Homo sapiens: one gene and its partner. The protein of the gene in region 1 interacts with the protein of each later gene in a biochemical or structural test. Each region holds a gene or a part of one and is shown in the gene's direction. Other genes may lie near its edges.

What was found. Proteins that work in one complex are often made in the same cells at the same time.
Region 2: of the proteins of MEP1A (region 1) and NTS, one has a biochemical effect on the other in vitro, tested with the Homo sapiens proteins (one study listed by BioGRID).

Annotation. Positions count from the first base shown.
Region 1 is NC_000006.12:46,796,026-46,804,012, forward strand, and holds part of MEP1A (meprin A subunit alpha precursor), read left to right. Parts: intron 1-2,580; coding exon 2,581-2,621; intron 2,622-3,080; coding exon 3,081-3,156; intron 3,157-7,987.
Region 2 is NC_000012.12:85,868,794-85,877,448, forward strand, and holds the start of NTS (neurotensin/neuromedin N preproprotein), read left to right. Parts: upstream 1-5,501; 5' UTR 5,502-5,610; coding exon 5,611-5,683; intron 5,684-7,846; coding exon 7,847-7,908; intron 7,909-8,655. UniProt on the Homo sapiens protein: Neurotensin may play an endocrine or paracrine role in the regulation of fat metabolism. It causes contraction of smooth muscle.

The DNA of each region.
Region 1 (7,987 bases):
CTCTTCCCCTTCCTACTTGAGCTTTCCAGCCACCCTGACTGCACAGCTACTCCTCTAAGGAAGTGATTTTCGATGTGTTGTCCCCAAGCCAGCAGCATCGGCATCACCAGGAAACTTGTTAGGAATGAACATTCTCAGGCCTCACCCCAGACTTAATGGACCAGAAATCCAACGGTGGGGGCTCATCAACGGGTGTTGACCAAGCCTTCCAAGGGACTCTGATGCTCAAGTTTAGGACCACTGCCCTAAGACATCAAGGCTTTCCTGTCACAGGACCTTTCTATCTGGTGTTGCCTCTACCTCCCCTACTCTTCCTTCATTCCCTCACTCTATCATATTTCTGCTAAAATGCCACCTCCTGTGGGAGGCCCTGCCTGACCACTCTTTAATAAAATAGCAAACCTATCTCACCTCAGCACTCTTTCCCACTTTACCTTTCATTTGTTTCTTTTTTATTGTACTTTTCACCATTTGTCACACTTTACAGTTATTTGTTTATTTGTATGTCTCCTTCTTCCCCCAATCAAGAGAGTCATCTCCTTAAGGACTTGTTTTATTCTCTACTGTATCCCAGCATCTAGAAAAATGCTTAAGACACATTAGGCATTTAATAAGTGTATACTACATGAACAAATTGGGTAATGAATAGATTGAGGCTTGCTCTCACTGGATGTACACTTCTTTGGGAGGTTCTCCCTGCCCCCCATGACTCCATCCATTCTGACTGACCACTGGGGCCAAAGTCTGAGTGGGCTTGTTCACTTCACTCTGAAAGAGCTCCCTCAATCCCATTATAATCCAGGCCAGGTGTCAGGAAATACAGATTTTTGCTCAGGACAAACCTCAATGTAAGAATAGATGGACCAGAACAAAGTCCCTCTGTTTAAAAGATGATTCAAATCTGGGTCCTACTGACAGTGGGACAGTGATGTCATTACTGTTTGTGGTTAATCGTACTGCTACCATAAGAATAGGTCAGGGTTAAAGAGGTTAAGCAATCTAGGAAATGTGTGCATGAGGAAGGGAATGATACAGGGATAGCCCTAGTTAGTCACTGGCAAGTGAAATCATGATGCCTGCTAATACCTAACACCTCCTTGGTGTCCTATGCATAAACGGAGCTGGTTCCTGAATGAGCCACAGGCTTTGCCAAATGAGGTCTCTGTTGGCTCGTGAGACTGTGGTAATTAATCTCTGCCTTGGCTTCCCAGCCTGTAAATCAGGGCTGTCCTCAGAATGAAGTACAATCCAGTGATTCTGTCTGAAGTTGTTGCATTTTACAGAAAATGTTTCATGTCACATGAGAGTTATGATAAGTGATGCTCTTTTAATGCTTGAGAAATTTTCCTACAAAGATCTTCCCTTTTAAGAGTCTTGCTTACTGAAACAGGATGAGGCAAGGATTAAGCAATAACAGCAGTAGGAGAGTATATTCTGCTAAGCACCTGAGAACAGATGTTTGGAGATACGGTTTAGAATGGATCTATCCATATTCCCCTGGTCTTCCTCATGATGTGGGCAGCACCTTGAGCTTGGTTTTGGAGGGTATCATCGTTTTTTCATGGGAAAGAGCAAAACACACTCATTTACTTTGGGACAAGAGGCAGAATGGTACACTGGTAGAAAGAGCCCTGGATGGAAAGGCAGGAGTTTTGATGCTCACTTGGCCACTTGATTACATAGTACATCACTTCATGTCTCTGGACTCTATTTCTTTCTCCATTTCTCTCAATAGTCTTTCTTTCTTTTTCTTTCTTTCTTTCTTTCTCTTTCTTTCTTTCTTTCTTTCTTTCTTTCTTTCTTTCTTTCTTTCTCTCTCTCTTTCTTTCTTTCTTACTTTCTACCTTTCCTTCCTTCCTTCCTTCCTTCCTTCCTTCCTTCCTTCCTTCCTTCCTTCCTTCCTTCTTTCCTTCCTTCCTTCCTTCCTTCCTTCCTTTTTTCTTCCTCTTTCTTTTTTTGTGAGACAGAGTCTGGCTCTGTCACCCAGGCTGGAGTGCAGTGGCATGATCTTGGCTCACTGTAACCTCTGCGTCCTGGGTTCAAGCAATTCTCCTGCCTCAGCCTCCCGAGTACCTGGGACTACAGGTGCACGCCACCATGCCCAGCTAATTTTTGTACTTTTAGTAGAGACAGGGTTTTACCATGTTGGCCAGGCTGGTCTTGAACTCCTGACCCCAGGTGATTCATCCACCTTGGCCTCCCAAAGTGCTGGGATTACAGGCATGAGCCACAACGCCCAGCCATTTTCTAAATAGTTTTCATCCTCCTTATCAGTGCTGCATCGAATCCCTTTTTTATAATCAGTGATCAGTAAAATCCCTTCTAACTTATGTCTTACTTCTAAGATTCTTAGACAAGATTTCTTGTCCCAAAATTGAAAACAGAGGCTATGACAATATGTGATACTCATCGGCCATTCACATTTGCTTAACTGGAATTTTTGCATTGTTTCAAAAAGTTTTGCCACATAAAGATTAATATTCAAAGATTTATAATGGCAAATACTAATTTTATTACGAAAGATGCCTTTTAATAATGTTCACTCAAATATTCTTTTTTTAAAAAAAATTCCACTTCCAGCTGCAGGCTTGGACCTCTTTCAAGGGGACATCCTCTTGCAGGTGAGTACCTGTCAATGATGCAATAAGTTTCTCAGGACAGGCAGTACCACTGGGTGTGAGTCTCTGCTCTGCGGCCAGCCCTGGGATGGGCACTGTGAAGGAGATGAGAGAAATCTCATCTATAATCTGTTCCAGTGAGGAGTTCCACTGTAGTTCCTAAGGACAAAAACAGAGGGAAAATAAGTAAACAGCACAAAAGGGTCTAAAATGATTAAATGGCTTATCTATCCAGTTTTCTTGGGATTGCAGGCCCCCTTTATTTTGTTCTTAATAATTTCTCTGATTTTTCCAAATTATCTCTCAAGGACTTCTATTGCTTTCATAATCAAAAGACAAATTGCCACTAAACTGTTTGAGTTGTGTGATAGACTGTTTGCTCTGTGAGAGTTTAGTGAAGGAGGAGGTCAAGGTGACCTTGAGGACTAGGCTTCCCACTCACCTTTACCTTTGTTTTCACAGAAATCCAGAAATGGCCTGAGAGACCCAAACACCAGGTGGACGTTCCCCATTCCTTACATCTTGGCTGATAATTTGGGTAATATTAATTGTTCTTAATTAGGAAGTTTCAGTTTAACTCTCTCTCTCCTCTCAGCCTGTCCATGGGCTTCACATTGGGAGTAACCACCACGATCTAAGAGAGTTTTCAAGTCCTGATGCATCTTTATCTAATGGGGAGAAAGACATAACATTACATCAAAAGCATTGCTGCTTAACCAGTCTGAGATACACAGAATCCAAGAATAACTTTTAAAATGCAACACACATTAAAGTATTAGTATAACCAGGAGAACATAAAAGAGCAAAACCTAATGAAATATAATTTGCATCAGAACAAGGAAAAGTTTGCACTTTGTTTAGGTGAATCTAAATGTAGTGTGAGGATACTATTTTCAGCATATTGATTTCTTCTCTTTTTCTTACAAGAGAAACATGCCACACTTTGAGAAATAGGAAAGTCCATATTTCACATGTTCACAATCCTTTTTTCTTGGTGTTATTAATGTCTACTCTTTTCTCTCTCTTAAGAAAAAGATCTGAATATGTTACATTTTACTCATTGTTAGAAATAATGACTAGTAGAATGACTTCCCTGCCTTTTAGCTAAGGTTGCATATAGAACTAGCAACTGGTAGAAATAAGTAAATATTAGAAGCCACATGTAGGCACTGGCTGACCCTCAAGCAGTTGACTGACAGCTGAGCAGCCATGATGACTCAATGTCTGCAAGGCCCCTCCTGCTTAGACAGATGAACAAGATTAGAGTGAAGAAGGGAAGCCAGGACAGGGTTGCTTAGTCTTGTTGGGCTGCTAGGCTGCTCCTACTCTCAGGAGATGTAGATTATGTTTCAGTATTTTCCATCCTCTTTATCAGTGCTGCCTCGAATCCCTGTTTATGGAGAACAGCTAGATATAAACAAATGTTATTGTTCACAGCTATTAGTTGGAAAATTGAGTTGTTTTCTCCAGTGTTTGCCTTGCAAATTCACGGAACATCAATACTTAATGGAACATGATTTAAGAAACACCAACTTTAAAAGGGGTTCTTTCCCATTACAATTTGTTTTATCCTGGTTGTCACATCTGCACCACCCTATTATGTGCCAGGCTCTGTGCCTTCATCTGATATTTTATGTAACCTTTACCATGCCTCTGTAAGGTGTAAGGTAGTGCTTCTCAGACTTTAATGTGCATAGGACTCAGATGAGGATCCTGTTAACCTACAGAGTAGGTCAGCGTTGGTGTGTGAGATGTTGCATGTCCAACGGTCCTCTAGTGATGCTGATGCTATTGGTCCCCACGCAGACCACAGCTTAAGTAGTAAGGTCTCTCTAGTTGCAAGATAGGTAAGAAATTATATTTGAGAGTGATTTGAGACAAGTGAACTGACATAAGATAAAGGTATTAAGGATACAGCAGTATTTCTCAAGCAATACCACGTGAAGGTCACCTTTAGTGTTAAAGTTCAGATGCCCAGACCCAGACCACTGTGAAAGCAAACTTTCTAACTAGAGTTGAATATTTGTATAGAATTGTTTTATTCAAGTTAAATTTACATAGAGTGAAATACACAAATCAGTATATAAGGCTTTTGACAAACACATATACCTATATAATGCACACTTCCATCATTCCATAAAGTTCCTTTCTAGGCAGTTCCCATCCCCACTCCTTAAGAGACAACCACCATTCTGATTTTCCCCTATGTATTAGTTTTGCCTGATTTACAACTGATTTACAGATAAATGAACTCATATACCATAGTATTTGTTTTATAAATACTATGTGTCTGGCTTCTTTGACTTATGTTTTTTAAGTTCTTCCATATTGTTGTAGATCAACAGTAAATTCTTTTTTTAAACTACTCAGTAATATTTCTTTGTAATACTATACTGTAAATTACTGTCCATTTTTCTGTTGGGGCTAGTATGAAGAAAACTGTTATGATAATTCTTATACAAGTTTATGTGAATACATTTTTTATTTATCTTTGGTAAATGCCTAGGAATATAATTGCTTGGTCATATGGATAACTATGTAAGAAAACGCCAAACAGTTTTCCAAAGTGGCTGTGCCATTGTACACTCCTCCTGAAAATATATGAGTGTTTCATTTGCTCCACATCCTCGCTAATATTGATAGCATTAATCTTTGTAGTTATAGCCATTTTAGTAGTTGTAAAATGGTATCTCCCTACGATTTTAATTTGCATTTCCCTAATGATTAGTGATATTTAGCACATTTTAGTATGCTACTGGCTATTTTTGTATCTTCTTTTACGAGGGTCTGTCCAACTCCTTCATGAGTTTTAAAAATTATATTGTTTGTCTTTTTATTATTTGTAGGATTTTATATATTATGGCTAAAGCCCTTTTTCAGATATATGTATTATAAATATTTTCTGTTAGTCTGTTACTTACCTATTTGTTTTTGTTTTTCAAGCAGTGAATTTTGAAATGCAAAAGCTTTAAATGCTGATAAAGTGTGATTTATCAATTTTTTAACTTATGGTTTGTGTTTTTATATTCTAAGAAATATGTGCTTAAACCAAGTCACAAAGATATATTCCAATATTTTTTGAAGTTGTATGGTTTCAATTTTTGTCTATAATTGATTGCAAACTAATTTTGTGTACAACAGGATGAAGAGATTGAGACTGATTGGTTGGTATTTATTAGCCCAGTTGTTCCAGCAACATTTGCTATAAAATTTTGCTTTCCTCATTAAGTACTCTTCGCAAGAGTCTCGTTTGCCAAGTTTGCCAAGACTCCTCATTTCTTGATCTGGTATCTCTGTTTTCCTATCTTATTCTACTTGTTTATCATCATGTCAAAAATCACTATGTTGATTACTCTAGCTTCACAGTTAACCTTGAATTGAGTGTTCCAGCTTTGCTCTCCAATTTCAAGACTGTTTAGCCTACTCCAGACCTTTTGCATTTTCATGTATATTTTACAATCAATTTCTCTAAAAAGCCTGCTGGGATTTTGATAGGAATGTGTTGATTCTGTACATAAATTTGTAGAAAACTAATTTCTTAAAAATATTGAGTCCTATAATCCATAAACATGGTACATCAGTCCATTTATTTCAGTCTTCTTTAATTTATCTAATCCGTGTTTTATAAATTTCAGTGTAGAGACCTTGTGTGTCTTTGGTAAATTCATTTCTAAGCATTTTATATTTTTGATGCTATTAAAATGAAATTTAAAAAATTTTACTACATAATGTTTTCTGCTAATATATAAAAATACAATGGATTTTTATATATTGATTTTGTATTCTGTTACCTTGCTAAATTTACTCATTAATTTTAATTGTTGATTTGTAGATTTTTTTAGGACTTTTAGTAAAAATTCTTCTTGCCTTTTAATATAGACAGTGTTACTGGTTCCTTTCCAATTTTTACACCATATATTGCTTTTTCTTGTCTTATTGTTCTGGCTAGGACCTTCATTACCATGTTGAATAGAAGTGGTAAGAGTGGACATCTTTGCCTCATTGGCTTGTTTAGTGGTAGTATTCAATACTTCATTCATGTGGGACACTGTAGGTTTTCCACAGATGCCCTTTGTCAGATGGTATGTTTTCATCATGAATAGTTGTTACAGTGTATCAAATGCTTTTCCTGCAACAATTAAGTATAATTTTTATTCCTTATTGTGTAATATGGTAATAACATCAAATTTGAATGCTAAATCAACTTTGCATTTCTCAGATGAGCCCTACTTGGTTATGATGTATTATCCTTTTCATATTTTGCTGGATTCCTAATATTTTGTTATACATTTTTGTGTTTATATTCATAAATAGTATAAGTTTCTAATTTACCTTTTTGTAATATCTTTATTAGGCTTTAGTAATAAAGTTATGTAGCTCTCAAAACCATCTTGAAAATTTTTCCTCTTCTTTTATCTTTTGAATAAGTTTGTGTATGATCAAAATTTTTTCTTTCTTAAATGTTGGTAAAAATCACCAATAAAATAAATAATAAATTTGTTTGTTGGTAAAATTCACCGATAAAATAAAATAACCAAGTAATGGAATTTTCTTTGTGGGATAGTATTTTTATAATGAATTCGATTCATTTAATAATTATAGAATTATTCTTATTTTCTATTATGCTGCTTTTATTAAATTGTATTTTTCAGTAATAAAAAATTAAGATTATCTTAATAGATGCAGAAAAAGCATTTGACAAAATTCAACAACTATTTCAACTAAGTTGTCAAAATAGTGGCATAATATCTCATTATCTTTATAATGTCTGTAGAATCTTTAGTGATAGTCCTATTTCACTTTTGATATTGGCAATTTGTGTTTTCCCTCTTTTTTTCTTGACATGTCCTGCCAGGGACTTATTGATTTTATTAATATTTTTACAGAATTGACTTTTGATTTGTTAATTTTCTCTTGCTTCTCTGCTTTATATTTAGTTGCTTTCTGTTACCTTTATTATTTCCTTTCTCCTACTTATTTCAGGTTTAGTTTACTCTTCTTTTTTGACATTCTTAAGATGAAAATTCATATCACTTATTTTAAACCTTCATTTTTTCTAATGTAATATATTCTACAACATGGCTACTAAAGCTATAAATTTTATCTGAAGCACTGCTTTACTGCCTTCTTCAAATTTTGATATGGTGTATGCTTATTAAAATTTAGTTTATTAATAGATACTTCATAATTTATCTTGTGAATATTTTCATCCATGGATGGGATAAAAGTATGTTTACATTTTTAAAAATATTGTCCTTAGCGTTAATATTATGCAAGCATTTTACAATAGTATAATTCCATTTATACCCCTGCCCTTTGTACTTTATTGGTTTATATTTTCCATCTACATGCTTCATAAGTCTCGCACT
Region 2 (8,655 bases), on another chromosome or scaffold:
TTTTGGGATCATCTGAGAAAAGAAAAGAGTTTCTCATGGCAATGGCAGAAGAGAGAAAGGGAAAGCCCTATGTGTCAAGCACAAATCAAGTCTGTCTTTTTCTTATGTCTACTAACATCCCACTGGCCAAAGCAAGTCTCATTTCCTAAGTTAAAGTCAAAGAGTGAGGAAGTATATTTCATCCACTCTGGGAGGAGTAAGGGAATGAATATTTGATGAACAGTAATCACAGTTTTCATTGCAGATCTTTAACAAAAAAGCTTAGCATGTTGCACAAAAGCCAGAAGACCAATGTGCTTGAAACATAGGAACAGAAGGGGAGAATGGTGGAATATGATGATAGAGAGGAAGACAAAACCCACTCAGGTAGCATAGGCCATCATCAGGCATGACAAGAGGAAACCTTTAGAATGTTTTAAGCAGAGAATGACAGGAATAGATTTACATTTTTAAAAACTTTTCTGGAGTTTTTGAAAGCTGAAAGGGATCAAGGTTGTAGGGAGACTACTCAAATGGTTATTATGGCAGCGCAGGAGAAAGATGGTGGTGGCTTGGACTTAGGTGGCAAAAATGACATAAGGAAAAGTAGTTAGATTTGAAATATATTTTGGAACAGACCTGCACCCCAGGGGGTTTTGCTAGCTTGGAAGTGGAGGGGAGAGAGAAACAATGTAAATGGATTCTAGTTTTTAGATCTGTGCAACTCAGTAAATCATGGTTCTAATAATTGAAATGAAAAACTCTAGAGGGGCAGAAGATTATTAGAAAGATGTTTGGAGGAATCAAAAGTTTTACTTTAGACAATAAGTCTGCCTAATGAAACTCCAAGTAGGGCTGCTAATGAGGTGATTGCATATACAATTTGAGTAGTCAGAGATACAAACTTGGAGGTTATTAGGAAATAGATAGGATTCAAAACCATAAGACTTATCAGATTCACTGGGAAAGCACAGTAAATTTAAAAAGAATCATAAACCCAAGGAGTATGAATAATATAAAACCATTACATTCCAAATTTAACATGTAATATCTTCTTGAGAAAAAGAAAAAAAGTGTTTCACTGAATTTGCTCCTGATAGACGGTAGCTCAAGTACATCTGCTCTGTTTCAGGTATTGCAGGTGCTATGGAAATTTTCTTAGACTTTGTAATATTAAAAAAGAAAAGAGAAAGTTTTCTTATAATAAGAATTTGTCTCATTTATTACATTAGATAATTACACTAATTTATAAAACTAAGAAACATGAAAGAAGAAATTTGTCAGGAACATTTTTTTCTGTAATACTTTTATTTTGGTCTTATTCAAAAGGGAGACCTATAAGGAAAACTACCTGAGCATTACACATAATGGGTGGTGATTTTGTGAGTATTTACATTTTTTCCTAGACACGAGAAGCAAGATTATAGGTGAAGTCAGCAATGGCTGCAATGTGGAGCATGGTTAGTTAAATACAGTAACTCATTAACATGTAAGTCCCAAGCAAACCGTATTTTGTAATTACGGTTTAAGTTGCAAAATATGCTTTGACTACAGAAGTCAGTCATCAATTTTTCCAGGTTAATTACCTATATGGATGCAATAACAGAGATAGGAAGAGCTGAAAGGAAATGAGCTAGGAATTTGTAAGGATTATGGGCAAAGCAAGGTTACATGCAGATTGGGAAACTGAACGTTTGTTTACATTTACCTAAATCTCCAAGGTTGGGTTATACACATCCTATGTGGGTGTATGCATGCACACATCCATCTGTATTTCTAGAAAATATACTTTAATTGAACAGAAAAATCAATTGGGTTCACAGACTTTGACATCATTATTTGTTCAGATGAATCAGAGTTACAGCTTCAAATGATAGACTCATTTATAGAAATGGAGCAAACTCACAATTTATCTAAACATTCAGCTGATGATTGTACATGATCCAAGGACAATCTTCTTGAATGATTTTTTTAAAGTTAACATTTCCAGTCAGAGAGGAAAAGGATGATGAGAGAAAAGGCTGAGAAAACTGACTATAAAAGCTCACATAAAATATGAAGATTAATGATAACAAAAGAGTGTTAAAAGGTGTGGCTGAAAGAAACATTTAAAATTAAAACATGGAAAGGGCATGTAAGAAATTAAACGTAATCAGTATTTTCATTTAATTTAGTAAGTATGTATTGATCACTTATGGATTATAAACCTTAGAAGTCAGAATGTTCTCCTTCTAGCAGTTTACAGTTTACCATAAACTGTATAAACAAACTACGGAGCATTTAACAGAAAACTAGGAAAAATAGAAGTAGACGAGACTACTTTCAGGACTCAAACTTGGAAATGTTTTTGTTGATTAAGCCATAAAATACAGGATGATCATAGGAAGGTGAAGGGGAGATTCCAGGTTGTAAAAACACAACAGGCCAAGTTTCAGGTATTTAGGTTACCAAAAGATTGGAAAATCCTGGAAGCTGTTAATGAGGTATTAAAGTCACCAGAGCTATAGGAAAAAACCATAAGGAACTGAAAAACCAACCCTTGATCAGTTGGTTCCAGAGCTTGCCCTTCTCCAAACAAAATAAGCTTACAGACCACTCTTTCTAACTGCCAATTCTTCAGGTGTCTCTGTTGATTATTTTCAGCAATTACCTAATAAAGGTCTGACATAAGTAACAGTACAAGCTTAGAAATCTACCTACTTTAGAGATGTTGTAATCAACAGGTACCTAACAGGTAACATCCACTTAAGAAGGCCAACACAGGAATATTATTAAAGGACAATGCTTAAAATCTTTATCAGATATTTTAAGAACTAGGTAACCCTTAGAAGGATCTAAGGTATGCCGGGCATGGTGGCTCACGCCTGTAATCCCAGCACTTTGGGAGGCCGAGGTGGGCGGATCATGAGGTCAAGAGATCGAGACCATCCTGGCCAACATGGTGAAACCCCGTCTCTACTAAAAATACAAGAATTAGCTGGGCCTGGTGGTGTGCCTGTAGTCCCAGCTACTCGGGGGGCTGAGGCAGGAGAGTTGCTTGAACCCAGGAGGTGGAGACTGCAGTGAGCCGAGATCACACCACTGCACTCCAGCCTGGTGACAGAGAGAAGCTCCATCTCAAAAAAAAAAAAAAAGAAAAAAGAAAAAGGATCTGGGGTAAAAAGCCTTTAAAATAAAAACAGTTCACCCATCTCCATAGCAAGGTGTCTACAATCCTGCATTAAAGGCATCATTTAGGAAGTTCGTAGGGTACTTTTTAAGTGGAAAAATACATACTTAACCTTTATCCCTACAACAAATTGTTTTATTGGTTTATGTGTAGCTTGAAGGCATTAGATTAGAGCAAGAAACAAAAAGCCTAACACATTAAAGAAAATACCAATTAGAGGTCAAAGTTTATCTACATCATAATTTTACCAAAGTTATACATCTTTTTTCCCCAAAAGAAAAGTAGCATATAGCATCTATTTGAATTTGAATTATTTGACATAACTTAATGTTTCCCCTATTCTTGAATATTTATCACATATCTCAATTTTCACATTAACAACTAATATCCATGTTATATATTTAAAATGAATTTCCATTAATTCTTCTCCCCCTTTTTTCTAATTAATTAGGGATCAATTTTGTCAACATATTGAAGAAATCATCTGAGGAAAATAAGAATCACATTTCCTTTTTACTATTAGACTGCTATCACACATTTTAAAAGATCATTCTTTGTATTTGCAATTCAAAAGCAGAGAAAACAACTAATTTAATTATCATGCAAAGTATATATAATTTTCCCGATTTGTTAATCAAAGTGGCTTTAAGAGGATTCTGTCACAAAGATGCTCTGATAGTAACAGGAAAGTAAGCACAAATCCTCACTGAGACTCTGTTAAGTGAAAACCAAGTGTTTCAAGCTTCCATTGCTCCCCCTAATGGTAGGAAAGCAGAAAACATCTAGACGTATGTATTTCACATTTGTCAACTAAATACTTTACAGAAACCTTCCTCCATGTGAGTATGTTCAATATTGTGTTTTATGTAAGTTCAGAAAACAAACTAAAAGTAATAAATATATCAGTTATTATTAAATTTCTGGTATTATATGAAAGACTCCTTGCTATTCTAAGTAATTATTAAATGTTTGGATTTAATCGCTTTGCTTAAGTTTTGGGTAAAGGTGAAAAAGTTAAACTCATAGATTGTATAATATAAATCAATTATCTATAGGAACCAATCCTATTTTTTCTCAACTGTTACTACATGATTGATTTATTTAAAAATTAAACAAGACTCAGACAACTTTACATTCAAATATTCACATCTCTAACAGCACTGACTTGTCAAATTACCCCATGTATCTTGAAATGCTTACTACAAGAAGAAAGTTTTACTCTAAAAGGCATTTTGAACAATTTTCTTTTGAGAACTCAGACAAAGAATGGGTATCAGTGTAACTCATGAAATACATGAAGACTATCATAGAAAAGTGACTTTGGTGAATGGTGGTTATTTAGGATTGTCTCCTTTCCAAAAGTACAATCTCTTTTTTTATGGTGAAAAGAGTATTATAACAGGGAAAGAAAGCCGATGCAATAGTAAAAACTGTTGAGAAGGGAATTATACAAAGAGTGAGACATGGCATCAAGAATGAATTCAAAAAGAGCAGAAAAATATAGGCATAAAAAGAGATAATGTACAGAAAAAAAGTCAGTGATACAACAACACAAATTTTTACCTGCTAGAATGTAAGTAATTTAGAGCTGGATTTTATAAACATGAAATTGTTTTTCTAATACATTCAACCAAAAGTCAGCACACATAGTTCAGTCATCTCTCATTACTTACAATAAAATATTTTCTATTTGTTAGGAAATAATATCTTATTCCCTGGATCTATTATTTCTTTTTATTGATTTTCTTTCTATTCTCTAAACTTAATTGCTTAATTTTTATAACTGATTCTCTGTCTCTATTCCATCTTATTCCAGCATGGATTATTTAAAACCTGTATTAGTTTTGGAACCACTAAACATTTGCTCAGAAGTTTGAATTACCAGAGAAGCACCCTAACTCTTCAAGAACTTCCAAGCCTAAGGAATCACTGATTTCATGCATTCATCCTGGAGATTTTCCTTAAAAATTAGAAATAACAGATCTCATGTTTCACAAAATCAAAATGACAACTTTTGGAGTGGGGGAATGAGAAGTGGGAAAAGGATGATACTGGGGGTTCTTTGTCAGTATGCTGTATGTATGCTGTATGTCAGTGCAGTTGAATGACTCCTTCTGTGCGTCAGAAATCCAAAGCAGCAGCAGCAGCAATTAGGGAAGATCGTCACTTTCACTCAAGGTTCAGAAATGGGGGAGGAGAGCAGGGGGGACAAAGGAAAAGGGGAGGAGAAAGCAGGGCAAAGAGGGGAGGGATGGAGGTGAAGATAGGGCACATCCTGCAAAGATAATGTCTGTACAATCAATGACATCATCCTCCTGCTTATATATATAGGGGAATGGCCAGAGCACCTCTCATAGTTCACTCACTTTCAAAGCCAGCTGAAGGAAAGAGGAAGTGCTAGAGAGAGCCCCCTTCAGTGTGCTTCTGACTTTTACGGACTTGGCTTGTTAGAAGGCTGAAAGATGATGGCAGGAATGAAAATCCAGCTTGTATGCATGCTACTCCTGGCTTTCAGCTCCTGGAGTCTGTGCTCAGGTAAGCAAAACAGAATTTCACAACTCCCTGAAGTGATTTCTTTTTTCTCTTTTGCAGTGTGTTGCTACTTATGTTAATGTATCTGGGGAGAAGAGTTGCTCCCTTTTATTCAGGATTTACCTTTTAGTGACAGAAACTGAGTATCTCTTTCTCTGCCTTTATGATTACTGAGAGATGTATTTTCTCTTTTAAAATCTGCAAAGCAATAAAAGGGATTTCAATGAAACACTGCACGACCTCCTTTGGAATTCAACAACTAGAGGGAAAAAAACCCTACAAAACTTTCAATTAGGCTGATCATTATCTAATGAGAAATACAGAGGCAGTGGCTGTCAACCTGCAAACCCATCATTAAATCCCATTCCATTCAAAATGTTTTACTCTCATCCTCATTCATTCTCTTAGGAAGCGGTGGCCCTCACGCCCTTGTAATAGTCCCCGTATTATTTTCTTGTTTGTGTTAAGATAACAAATAAAGTGAAAATTGATACTTAGTGAAAAATGAAGCATTATTTGTAGAAAATTATTTCTAGAAAAATACAAAAATATTCCAGATCCTTTTTGAGAACAGAATTTGCATAGTCTAATAAGTGTGCTATTAATATAACTGTTTGGCATTTTTTCCATGCCATTTAAGTTAATACAAAATACAATTGGAAAATTGGTATTCTTATATTGATGGAAATTATTTGACTTTAGAGTGTTTTGCATGTGGTTTGAAAGAAGTTATATAGTCCTAAGTATCTACGAATAACTCACTTTGAAAATAAGACTTAAATTGAAAGGTATAACATGAAATATTACAACCATTGCAAAAGGCTCTACTTAATATTTAAGAAATATTACAATGAACACTTCAAAGGGAAAAGAACACATTAGGAAGCAAATGCAGCAAAAATAATTTAACCTGTTCTGTGCTTTTATGTATCATAAATATGACATGGAAATGTTTAACTCAAACTCATGCTATCATTTGATTTAAATTATGAAATTAAAATCTAAGAAGATATAAATGTGATTTATACAAAATTTTAAATTTATTTTAATCATCAGAACATAACTTTCAGCTTCTACTTTTTAAATCTTATGAGAAAAAACAAACTTTTCTATAATTATGATTTTATCTGAAAGTTATATGAGATTAAAGATTCACATACTTCTGGAAGAAAAACTGGGTTATTGATTAAGCACTGTGTTTATTAACTTGAAACTACTTGTTGTAATAATGCAATAGTTATAAGGATTTTGGTATACATTGTTCATAAATTCCTAAAACAGATTATGTCTCTAACAAATAGTGAGAAAAGATCTCTTGTATAATTTAGGTTCTAGGTAAAATTAAGCCAATGGGTTCTCCAATTGTGGCATTTCTTTTTACTGAGTGTGTAGTACAAGGAAGATAGAGTCATTTTTAACTTTATTTTTATTATTGTATAGTATTTTCCAAATTTTCCTTCTCTGTAAAATATTCATTAACAGAAACTTGGATAGAGTTTTTTAAAAATCCAGAGATCCATTTTCAATGCTGTTGTACATGTGTTGTTGAACAGCTCCACTTTTGCTTTAAACAATTTCCTTAAATGCCTATGAAAAAATTGAGGATACATAATTTTGAATTCTCTTAAAGTACAATACAATTCTTTCAACGTGTGTTTTGTAAAAAACATCTCAAGTTAAGTAAACCTCAGTATCTTTATTATTCTAAAATTATCAGTAAGCAATTCCCTTTGGTTTTGTCTTGAAAAAGTCTCTTGTATAGTCTTCATTATGTTGTGTTTTTAAATGTTAATATGCATATTTTCTATATATGTAAACTGTGGCTGGTAAGAAATAAGCTACTCTAGCATATTTGGTAAAATATGTGTTATACAATGTAATCACATTTTTAAAGCCTGAAATTCAAAGATTAAACAACTCCCAGTGATCAATAGCTGTCTGAAAAATAATCATATGCTTATTTTCTTAGAAGTGCTTCTACTATTTTAGCTTCCTATTATGCTAAAGTATAACTATAATTTGTTTTTTAGGATTACTATTTTTAAGAAAATACATAAGAAAGACACTAACCTCTAAGATTTTTTTTTAGATTAACCTAAAATCTGTAGATTATGATATAATTATATGATATGTAATTATAGTAAACCTGATTTTGATTTTACTCAGATTCAGAAGAGGAAATGAAAGCATTAGAAGCAGATTTCTTGACCAATATGCATACATCAAAGGTAACTTTTTCTTTTCTTTAACCCTGAGTTGAAGAACATATGAACTTTCATTATAAACATGGTATCCTTTTCCCATAGTAATAACTTCTCATCAAGATTGAAAAGTTCCTTGAGAGGCATTTCCTTTTTGAAAAAAAAAATTTCTTTTAGTTAAAAGAAGTTAAAGGTGTTGATATGACAGGCAAAGAAATTATAATTCTATCAATCAGCATGTTGCAATTTTAATTAATTGCCACACATATTTACTTGCCTGTAAATGTTTTTAAAGGAACTTGCTTCCATGCCTTTTACATTGGGTATGATGAAAGGTATATTGGTCTCAAGTTAAATGAAAACAAAGTGAGCTCTTTGCCTTTTTTATTATATTGGGGGAAATAAAAAGGTGTTCCTAAATTAGAAATAAAAGTTCATGACAACCTGCAAAAGAAATGTAGTATAGAGGGGATAGCAATGGACTGGTAAGCAGGAGCATTGAGATCTAATCCTGAAACAGTGACTTATTAAATATTTTATCTTTAGCAAGTGGATTAGTTCACCTTGCTTACCTGTGTTTCCTTGTTTTTAAATGCAGGGATTGCAGTTCGTAATCTTCTAGACATTTACCGTTCTACAATGTATTTAGGAATTACTAAACTGTACTCTTCATTGTATGTCTGGATTTAAATTCTCCCTATAACAAACATGTTATTTTTACATGTTCTTTTTTTTTTTTTTTTTAATTGAGCCAAATACAACTTTGTATCCTGG